Linked DNA regions of Homo sapiens. The protein of the gene in region 1 purifies or fractionates together with the protein of each later gene. This does not show direct contact. Each region holds a gene or a part of one and is shown in the gene's direction. Other genes may lie near its edges. The genes, in order: PRKCI, MRPS35 and SMC4.

Region 1 (3,731 bases):
AACCCTCACCCCCCTCCCACCTTTTGTAGTCTCCAATGTCTACTATTCCCTCTTTATGTCCATGTGTACCCTTTGTTTAGCTCTCACTTATAAGTGAGAATATGTGGTATCTGGCTTTTTGTTTCTGATTTTTTTGACTAGGGATAATGGCCTTCAGTTCCATCCATGCTGGTGTAGAAGACGTGATTTCATTATTTTTTATGGCTGTCTCACTCCCACTTTCTAGAGATAGCCATTGTTAACAGTTAGGGATATTCTATATCATATCGGTATATTTATAAGTATAGATATGTATGTGCATACACACACACAGACATACCCTTTTATTTTTCCAATAAATGAGTTCATATTTCCACACATGCATCTGCAACTTGATTTTAAAAATCGTGGTCATCTTTTCATTCCAGGGTAGACAGACCTCTTTATAGTTGGTAATACAGTGTTCTACAGTTGTTGTTGTTGTTTTAAGAGACAGAGTCTGATTCTGTTGCCTACGCTGGAGTGCAGTGGCATGATCTAGGCCCTCTGCAGCCTCAACCACTCTGGGTTCAAGCAGTCCTCCCACCTCAGCCTCCTGAGTAGCTAGGATTAGCTCACGCCACTAGGCTCAGCTAATTTTTTTTAATATGTTTTGTAGGGACGGGGCTGGTCTCAAGCTCCTGTGCTCAAGTGATTCTCCTGCCTCGGCCTCTCAAAGTGTAGAAATTACAGGCATGAGCCATTGCGCCCAGCCACCATAATATGTTTAATCTTTTTTCGGATTGATGAACATTTAAAGTTGTCTTCATCAACTCACTATTTCAAATAATGTTGAAGGAACCTCCTTATATTTAATACATATTCTTGTAAATATGGTCAAAGATATGCCTATCTTGAAATATGATATTGTTTCCCAAAAGAGCTTAATTTACATTCTTAACAACAGGACTAGTGAAGCTTCTGCCTTATATTCCCATTGCATGTTATCTGTCTTTTAAATTTTTGACTGTCAGATTGGCAAAAAATGGTAATTTATTTTTACAAGTATCTTTTATATATTAATGATCATTTGTATTTCTTCTGGATTGTTCCTATTTTACCCATTTTCTATTGTATTATTTTTCTTATTAATTTGTTGACAGGACATTGACATTTTGTTAAAGTTGCCAGCATTTCCCCAATCTGTTGCTAGTCTGGAGTTTTTCGTTTTTATGTCATCAAACCTGTCCTTTTTAAAAATTTCCTTGATAGTTTCTGGATTTACTGTCTTAGGTAAAAGTGTTTTTCATCTAAAAATATTCTATTTTTCTTCTATTATGCAACTTTTTTTTTTTTTTTTTTGAGACAGAGTCTTGCTTTGTTGCCCAGGGTAGAACCCAGTGGCGTGATCTCGTCTTACTGCAACCTTTGCCTCCTGGGTTCTAACAATCCTCCTGCCTCAGCCTCCTAAGTAGCTGGGATTATAGGCGCACGCCACAACACCCGGCTAATTTTTGTTTGTTTTTTGAGACAAGGTCTTGCTCAGTCGCCCAGGCTGGAGTGCAGTGGCACGATCCTGGCTCACTGCAGCCTCTGCCTCCTGGGTTGAAGTGATTCTCCTGCCTCAGCCTCCCAAGTAGCTGGGATTACAGGCATGCGCCACCATGTCCGGCTAATTTTTTATTTTTAGTAGAGACAGGGTTTTGCCATGTTGGCCAGGCTGGTCCCAAACTCGTGACCTCAAGTGATTCACCCGCTGTGGCCTCCCGAAGTGCTGGGATTTTAGGCGTGAGCCACTGCGCCTGGCTTATTATGAAACTTTTAAAGTGATTATCTTTTCAGTGAATCTGGTATTTTGGGGTTTAGTCATTTATAGGGTACTGACACAACTTTTTTTTTCTCCAAAATTTATTCTAATACCATTATTGGGCAGATTGTCCTTTCACCACTGATTTGAAATGGTAACTCTGTTATGTACTAAATTTCCCACAATGTGCGTAGGTACTTTCTATTGTTTCATTGATTTTAGGGGAGAGATCTATTTTTGCACATACCACTATTGGTTTAATTATTGTAATATTATAGTTAACTTTGATATATGTTATGGAATGGCTTGATTCATTATTTAATTTTTTTTTTTTGTTTTTTTTTTTTTTGAGATGGAGCCTTGCACTGTCACCCAGGCTGGAGCGCAGTGGCGTGATCTTGGCTCACTGCAACCTCCGCCTCCCAGGTTCAAGCGATTCTCCAGTCTCAGTCTCTCAAGTAGCTGGGATTACAGGCAAGGCGCTACCATGCCTGGCTAATTTTTGTATTTTTAGTGAAAATGGGGTTTCACCATGTTGGCCAGGCTGGTCTGGAACTCCTTACCTCAGGTGATCCATCTGCCTCGGCCTCCCGGAGTGTTGAGATTACAGGCTTGAGCCACCGTGCCCGGCCTATTCCTATATATTTTATAATCATGTGCTTTTGTGAATGGGGTCTTCTTGTAGACCTATTACATACTGTTTTCTTTTTGTATGTTTAAATTAAACTTTCCACCTTACTAATAATTTAACTGTCTTAGAATTTTTAAGCTAGATAATGTCATCTGCAAGTAGCAATTTTGCCTCTTCTTTTCTATATCTTATTTATTTATTTATTATTTATTTTATGTTTTTTGAGACAGAGTCTCACTCTGTCGCCCAGGCTGGAGTGTAGTGGCGTGATCTCGGCTCACTGCAACCTCCGCGTCCCAAGTTCAAGTGATTCTCCTGCCTCAGCCTCCTGAGTAGCTAGGATTACAGGCGTGCACCACCACACCTGGCTAATTTTTGTAGTTTTAGTAGAGATGGGGATTCGCCATGTTGGCCAGACTGGTCTCGAACGCCTGACCTCAGGTAATCCACCCACCTTGGCCTCCCAAAGTGCTAGGATTACAGGTGTGAGCCACTGCGCCCAGCCTTATTTATTTTTAGCCATAGGCTAGAATTTTCTAGACAGTATTGAATTATAGTAATAATCTCTTATCTTAGTGAAATATAATAGAAAAATTTCTGTCAATTAAAGAAAAAAGCTTTTAAAGAATTAAAGTTAGTGTTATTCAGAAATGTTACTGAGGCCGAGTGTGGTGGCTCACGCCTGTAATTGTGCCACTGCACTTCAACCTGGGTGACAGAGCGAGACTCTGTCTCAAAAAAAACTCAACTGAAAAAAGTGGAACAAAAGAAAAAGAACCATGATAAGTATTTTGCACTTTTTTTTTTTTTGAGGCACATTTCTACTCTGTCACCCAGGCTGAGTACAGTGGTGTAATCACAGCTCACTGCAGCCTTAACTGCCCAGGCTCACGCAGTCCTCCTACCTCAGCCTCCCAAGTAGTTGGGACTGTAGGCACACACCACTATGTCTGGCTAATTTTTAATTTTTTTGTAGAGACAAGGTCTCCCTGTGTTGCCCAGGCAGGCCTCGAACTCCTGTACCGAAGCGATCCTCCCACATTGGCCTTTCAAAGTGCTGGGATTATGGCATGAGCCACCTTGCCTGGCTGCACTCATTTATTTTCATTTATTTTTCATTTTTTGAGTCAGTGTCTTCCTCCATCACCCAGGCTAGAGTGCAATGACATAGTCACAGCTCACTGCAGCCTCAACTTCCTGGGCTCAAGCTGCACTTATTTAGTCTTCATGATAATACTCAGAGGCAGATATGATTATCTCCATTTTTCAGATAACATTGAGACTTACTAACCCACAATACAAAGCTGGGTGTGTTTTTTTTTTTAGAGACAGAGT
Region 2 (3,831 bases), on another chromosome or scaffold:
ACAAATACTTGTCCATCTCATGCTATTTGTCCCCCTCCCATACCTTACTGATTGATGTCCATGGCGCACTGAATGTTCACAGCTAGAATATTCTTGGACACCTGCATACCTCTGCTCTACTGGTTGTATGCTTACCAAGAATCGGTTTTGTTTATTTTTAGTTGTTTTTACTGTTATAATTTTGTCACTTTGAGACAAAATAGGGAAATAGGCCAGACCCATGCCTGTAATCCCGACATTTTGGGAGGCCAAGGCAGGAGGATCACATGAAGCCAAGAGTTTGGGACCAGCCTGGACAACATAGCAAGACCCCCAACTCTACAAAAAACTTAAAAATAGAAAAAATAGGCCAGGTGCAGTAGCTCACGCCTGTAGTCCTATCACTTTTTTGGGAGGCCAAGGCAGGAGGATCGCTTGAACCCAAGAGTTTGAGACCAGCCCTGGCAACACTGTGAGACCTCATCTCTGGAAAAACAATTTTTTTTTTAATTAGCTGGGTGTGGTGGTGCGTGCCTGTAGCCTCAGCTACTTGAAAGGCTGAGGTAGGAGGATCACTTGAGCCTGGGAGGTCAAGGCTGCAGTGGGCCATGGTCCTGCTACCACATTCCAGCCTAGCAACAGAGCAAGACTCTGTCTCAAAAATAATAATAATTAATTAATTAATTAAAATAATTTTTAAAATAAAGAGAAAATAGAGAATTTATTTTATTTTATTTTATTTTTGAGGCGGAGTTTTGCTTTTATTGCCCAGGCTGGAGTGCAATGGCGCGATCTCGGCTCATCGCAACCTCTGCCTCCCGGGTTCATGCGATTCTTCTCTCGAGTAGCTGGGATTACAGGCATGTGCCACCACACCCGGCTAATTTTGTATTTTTAGTAGAGACCAGGTTTCTCCATGTTGGTCAGGCTGGTCCCAAACTCCTGACCTCAGGTGATCCACCCGCCTCGGGATCCCAAAGTGCTGGGATTACAGGCGCGAGCCACCGCGTCCGGCCGAGAATTGTTTTATTAAGGCTTGTATGTTAATTCATCCTACCGTAGAAAATTTAAGAGTGTTCATTAAAAGTTTATTTTCTAGGTCCTGATGAGTTCTGACTTTCTGTAATTCTAAGCTGATCTAACAACAAGCTAACCATATATAGCTAAAAGTTATAGGCTACGTACACGCGGTGTTCACTGTATGCCAACGCTGTACACAAATATTTGTCTATGCTAACTTGTCTGAGATCATACATCCCAGAAGTGGTGAAGTCAAGTTTGAAACCCAAGCACTCTGGCTCGGGATACTGCTTCTCTCCCCTTAGCGCATATTACTGGCATTAGTTGAAGACTTCTTTAATCCAAGTAAATGTAGAAAAGCAACAATTATAAATAACAAGAGTCCCTCGGGTAGACCGCCTGACTCTCGGATCAACTGAGGTTCCACCCAGAGCACGCCCGCCTTCAGTGAGCCGCAACCCCTATCCCTACGGTCTTTATCTGCAATTCTCTACGAACTGATTCACTCGATTTTTAAGGATTTTTTTTGTTTTCTTTTCATTACTTCTTTCAGTTTGGGGGAATCTTCCTGCACATTTGACTCGGCTCTGAGTGCGCAGACCAACGTGTTTCCTCTTTCTCCAGCCTAGGGCGGTGCCAGCCCAGGGAGCCTGCGCTTAGCGGCCCCAGGCCCGCCCCTGACACTGAACGCCGCTTGTCCCCTCCGGCTTGCCGTCCTCGCAGCCATGGCGGCCGCCGCGCTCCCAGCATGGCTGTCTCTGCAGTCGAGGGCAAGGACTCTGCGTGCATTCTCCACTGCCGTCTACTCGGCCACTCCGGTCCCGACACCTAGCCTGCGTGAGTGTCTGTCTCGTCTTCTCTGGGCTTTGGGGGAGGTGCAAGAGCGGAATACCGGCCTCATGAAGGGTGCCGCGGTGGCTGAGCCAGCGCCGCCCGGGGGAGGCCAGTGCGTCCGCTGCCAGGCCCGTCTGGTAGGAAAACCATGGACGTGGGTCTGTGCTCTGCACCCGCGTTGCCCGGCTTCTAGCCGCCTGTTTCTGCCCTGGGTGCTCTGGGAGTTTGCTCAGAAAGCTTACATCCCCCTTCCCCGTGACCTGCTCCTGTGTTGCCCCCGTCCACAGCCCCTGGCACAGGTTACTGGTGCTGTGTTGTTTATCGGGCATCGGCGCTGTTGAACCATGGATTTCCCCAAACATTAAGAGAGTCATACGGCTGTGCTAGGACAAATTGCTGCTCTGAATTCCAGGCCACCAAATGGGCGGCCTTCATTCAACAGGCGTTGATGACCTCCATTTAACAGAGATTGTAGGGATGCTTGATAGCGTGCTTACCCCGGAGGACTCTAGTGGAAAATACAGATTTATTAGCGGAGAAGTGCTATGTAGGGTGAGAGGCGCTGTGATAGAAGTGTGGCTAGAATGACGGGAGCGTTGAGGAGGAGCTGGCGTGAGTCTAATCAATAGGCGGATCCTACCTGTGCTACTTCCTGTTATATCTCTAATTTACTCTCCTCATACTACCAACTATCTAGTTCAGGTGACCATCTCATTTCTACAAGTTTTTTTTCCGTTTCCTGTTTCCCCTCTTGCTCTCCTACATTGAATTCTCAAAACAGCCAAATGAGGTTTTCAAAATTTAGATCTTGTCTTGCTGCTCTCATGTTCAAGATCTACAAATGGTTTCCCATTGTTTTCAGATAAACTATAAATACATTAATCCTTCATACTGGCTCTTCATAGGTCTAATAATTGTCTATTTTTAAATTTTCATTCTTAAATTCTTGGAATACTTAACTCCTATTGTATACCATGCAGTGTTCTAGACACTCACCGGAGATACGGCAAGGTGGGGAAGTCAATAGTATAAACAACCAAACAACTAAATAAGATGTCAGATAGGGTTTAATGCTTTGAAGAAAAATAAAGTAGAGTATTGAGAATGATGGATTTGGGGGGAGTAGTGGCCACAGGATGGTCAGGAAAGATCTTTCTGAGGAAGTGACATTTGAACAGGGCCCCAAGCCATGCAGAGATATGGGGAAAGAGCCTTTGGGGTATGGGGAACTATAAGTGCAAAGGCCAAAAGTTGAGAACAATCTGAGGGGTGTGATCAAGGAACGGGAAGAAGGACAATGTGGCAGGAGCTAAGTGTGAGTAGAGGAGAGAGTGGTAGTATAAGACGTCAGAGAGTTAGTTAAGTAATAATCTGATCTCTCAAGAGTTTGTAGACATTTCATTTGGATTTTTGGCTTGGGTTTTATATTGAAAGGCTTGGAACAGGGAACTGATATAATGTGATTTACGTTTTTAAAAGATCACTGGCTGCTTTACTGGGGTAAGAGTGGAAGCCAAAGATCTGTTTGGAGGCTGTTGCAGTAATCCAAATGAGGTGATGGTGACTTGGATTAAAGTAATAGTGGAGAAGGAGGTGTGGTTGTATTTGCGATATATTTTGAAGGTAAAGTTCATAGGATTTACTGATGGATTTGATGTGGGGCTTGAGGACAAGTCTCAAAAAAATCCTGTTACATTTTTGTTCTGAGCAATTGGATGAATGATGATTCCATGTACACGAATTGGGAAGACTGGAAGAAGAAAATCAAAAGCCCTGCCAAGGGGCTGAGTGTGGGGGCTCATTCCTGTAATCCCAGCACTGTGGGAGGTCGAGGCCTGCGGATCCCTTGAGCCCAGGAGTTTGAGACCAGCCTGGGCAACATGGCGGAACCTCGTCTCTATTGAAAATACAAGAAATTAGCCAGACGTGGTGGCCCATGCCTGTAGTTCCAGCTACTCCAGAGGCTGAAGTGGGAGAATCACCTGAGCCTGGGAAGTC
Region 3 (3,500 bases), 9.8 Mb from region 1:
GTTTTGTTTTTGTTTTTTTAATGCAGCGCTTTTCCTGTATTATCGGGCCAAATGGCAGTGGCAAATCCAATGTTATTGATTCTATGCTTTTTGTGTTTGGCTATCGAGCACAAAAAATAAGATCTAAAAAACTCTCAGTATTAATACATAATTCTGATGAACACAAGGACATTCAGAGTTGTACAGTAGAAGTTCATTTTCAAAAGATAATTGATAAGGTAAGGGATTTTTACTGTTATTGGCAAGTTCAAGTAAGGAAAATGGACTTAAATGCATTACATATTTTATTTTTGGCTTTAAGAAATTTGTATGTAATTACAGCGGAAAGCATTGGTTTCATTATCTCTGACCGTATTTTATTTTGGGGGAGTGGTGGTGCCTGTTAAAATACTTATTTTTTAGCTAAAGAAATGAAGTATAAATAGTTCATAGTAATCCTTTTTGGAATAAAAGCATTGAGCAGTTTTAGGGTCCTGAGTACTAAATAGGCATTATTTTACTATAAATATTCAGTTCATTTTTAAAGTTATATTTTGATTGCTTTAGAATAAATTAGCTAAACTTGAAAATGTAGCAGTTAGCCGGTTTTACCATCTTCATTATTTCAGTGCATTTTAACTCTAATGTTAGTGGCCCCTGAGTATCTGTGATATGAAAGAGCTTTGCTTCAGTTTGACTACTGCTGTAATTAAGTCCTTTAGAAATGGGGGAAGGACAAGCTAATGTTTGTTTTCTAGAAATGGAGACAACTAGAGGTAAAATGTCTAGATTATTTACCTGTTGAGACTTTTTCTCTTCTGTTTAATAATGTAGGAAATTGATTGTTCAAAAATGACTCGATGGAACCTAAAAATATAGAAAACTAATTACATAATGAAATTGGGAGGTGATTTGTCTTTTGAATTCGTTTTCCTTTTTTTAATACAAAGTGCTTTAATTACACAGAATCATCTATTTTAATTTGGTTTCTTTTGTGCTTTCTATTGTACAAGTTGGGTTGGAAAATAGATTGCCAGGAAATCAGATTTTATTCCATTGCATATTAATTACATTTGATTTATCTAAATTTTAGAAGCCTTTGCTTCAGTATGACAGAACTTTTAAGGTTAAGGGAAAGTGTTAAAGTAGATTTGCAATTGATTTTTTTAAAAATCTGTTTAAAAGAAAATCAAGGGAATTTAGTTGTTATTTCTTTGTGATTCTTTTTACTTTAAATTAACGGCACACTCTTTACCCTCCCACACAAAAAAACTAAAGTGTATCACCCGGTTACTACCTTCCTTCCTTTTTCTTTGAATCATCATTTTAAAAAGCTGCAGCTTTTTAATCTGTCAACATGTTAATAATTTGTGTGGGTTTTGGATATGGTGGGAATCTTGTCTACGTCTTCTCAATCATAAACGTTTTTAGGCTTGTTTGGAGGTGGGTTTTTTCGTTGGCTGGTTGGTTTGGCTTCTTGATTTTTGTGATCTTTGAGAAAGGGACCAAAACAGCATGGAAAAGTATCAATTCTTTGCTAAGTTGGGTTATTAATGAGAACTACTGGCAGTTTGTGTGCATGTTCAATTGAAGTTTTTAATCCATAGAATTAGTTTCAGTATGAAATGAGTGAATTTTGAAGTAGGCCTATGACTTAATACCAACAATTGTTTTCTGGTTTTGTTTTTCCTCAAAACAGGAAGGGGATGATTATGAAGTCATTCCTAACAGTAATTTCTATGTATCCAGAACGGCCTGCAGAGATAATACTTCTGTCTATCACATAAGTGGAAAGAAAAAGACATTTAAGGATGTTGGAAATCTTCTTCGAAGCCATGGAATTGACTTGGACCATAATAGATTTTTAATTTTACAGGTAAGTTTATTAAAGACTTCAAAGATTCTCTTATTCTTGTTACTTTTTTTTCTATAAAGCTAGGTTGGATGAATCCTACATTTTTGAGGCCTTAAAGTACTGTAGCAGCACATCATGGTTTACATGCTACAGTCAAGATGCGAATCATTATTTGCTGCTCTAGAAATTTAAGGAAATTCATTCAAAACTATGTTTTCATCATCAGATGTTCGTTTTATGTTTGGATGAACTGACATACTTGTTCCACTCTAGCAGCACGTAAATATTGGCGTAGTGAAATATATATTAAACACCAATATTACTGTGCTGCTTTAGTGTGACAGGGATACAGCAACTATTTTATCAATTGTTTGTATTTCCCTTTAAGGTAACATTTTAAATGAAATGTATTATATTTTAATCTATCCTTTTCCTTTGTTTTTGTTCTTATTATCTCTTCTGATATATAACCAAAAAATGAAAAAATCTGTACACTTGGTGTTTGATTTACCTAAGCACCTAGTTAATTTAATCTTTGTAACACTTTGGATGGTTAACTTAACCTTTACTCAAGTTGGTTTTTGTTTTGTTGAAAATGACTTACTTGGTGGAACCACTACTACTGAAAGAACGAAACTTTGATATTACATTGTTAAGTATCAGAGCTGTTACAGAGCAAGTCCTTTTAAAGAGATGTAAAAATTAAGTACCTGTGCCAAACTGATTTTTATTAGAAACCCTGTTTTCTTTAAGTAAAAGTATATTCTACCAGCATGGCTTGGTAAGAAAAATCCCCTATCTTTTTTTCCCTGTCCTCAAAATTCAGAATTTTTCGGAAAAAAAAAAAATTAGGGTAAAACCATGGCTTTGTCAAGTTCCTGTTTGATTCGAGGGTATCTTCTTTTCCTGTGTTCTATCCAGAATCACCGAAGCATAATAAAAGCAAAACTATTTTGTGATGCAGAAATGACTGAAATAAGTAGGGAATTTTGTTAGGGTGACTGGATGTTCCTAATAACAAACTTATAAAATGTTAGCCTCTGTTTCCATTTTAGTCTTTATTCTTCAATTGTTTCTAAAAATTATTACTTTTAGACATTCATAGTATACAAGGTAAATCAGTATCATTCTAGGATAACCTTTTTTAATATCTTTTGTTACCAGGCACAGTATATTTGCAATACTTCAACCTAAACTTATTTAAAAATTAATGTTGAGGAAATTAATTGCAGATATATTTCTAAACAAGATTGGAATTTATAGAATGTGGCATTAAAGGATTTTGTGTGTTTTTAAAATCAAATTGAACTGTTTTATTGACTTACATATTCTGGGACTTGGTTTGGTTAATAATGGATAAAAAGTTATGTCCCTATATAATACTAAATTTGATGATGATACCAATTTGCAGGAAATTGTACTTATGTTTATCTTTTGCTTAATCTTTTACCGTCATCCTGGGATAATCAAAGTTTTACATTTATCCAAAGATTCATCAAAATACACTGCATTTTAACCCTTCTAAGGATAATTTTTTTCTCTGTACAGCATCTCTGTACGTAATTCAGTAATAAAGGAAGCTAATGTAATATTGTCCCAACGAAGTAAATAATTTATAAATTGTCAAATTTATATTACATTTGTGCTTCTGAAGTATATGGGATGC

Evidence for each region.
Region 2: the proteins of PRKCI (region 1) and MRPS35 purify together in Homo sapiens (affinity purification with mass spectrometry; one large-scale study listed by BioGRID and IntAct). This does not show direct contact.
Region 3: the proteins of PRKCI (region 1) and SMC4 fractionate together in Homo sapiens (co-fractionation; one large-scale study listed by BioGRID). This does not show direct contact.

The regions. Positions count from the first base shown.
Region 1 is NC_000003.12:170,228,864-170,232,594, forward strand, and holds part of PRKCI (protein kinase C iota type), read left to right. Parts: intron 1-3,731.
Region 2 is NC_000012.12:27,709,120-27,712,950, forward strand, and holds the start of MRPS35 (small ribosomal subunit protein mS35 isoform 1 precursor), read left to right. Parts: upstream 1-1,712; 5' UTR 1,713-1,724; coding exon 1,725-1,836; intron 1,837-3,831.
Region 3 is NC_000003.12:160,402,650-160,406,149, forward strand, and holds part of SMC4 (structural maintenance of chromosomes protein 4), read left to right. Parts: intron 1-26; coding exon 27-218; intron 219-1,678; coding exon 1,679-1,855; intron 1,856-1,938; exon of another isoform or gene 1,939-2,036; intron 2,037-2,095; exon of another isoform or gene 2,096-2,176; intron 2,177-3,500. UniProt on the Homo sapiens protein: Central component of the condensin complex, a complex required for conversion of interphase chromatin into mitotic-like condense chromosomes.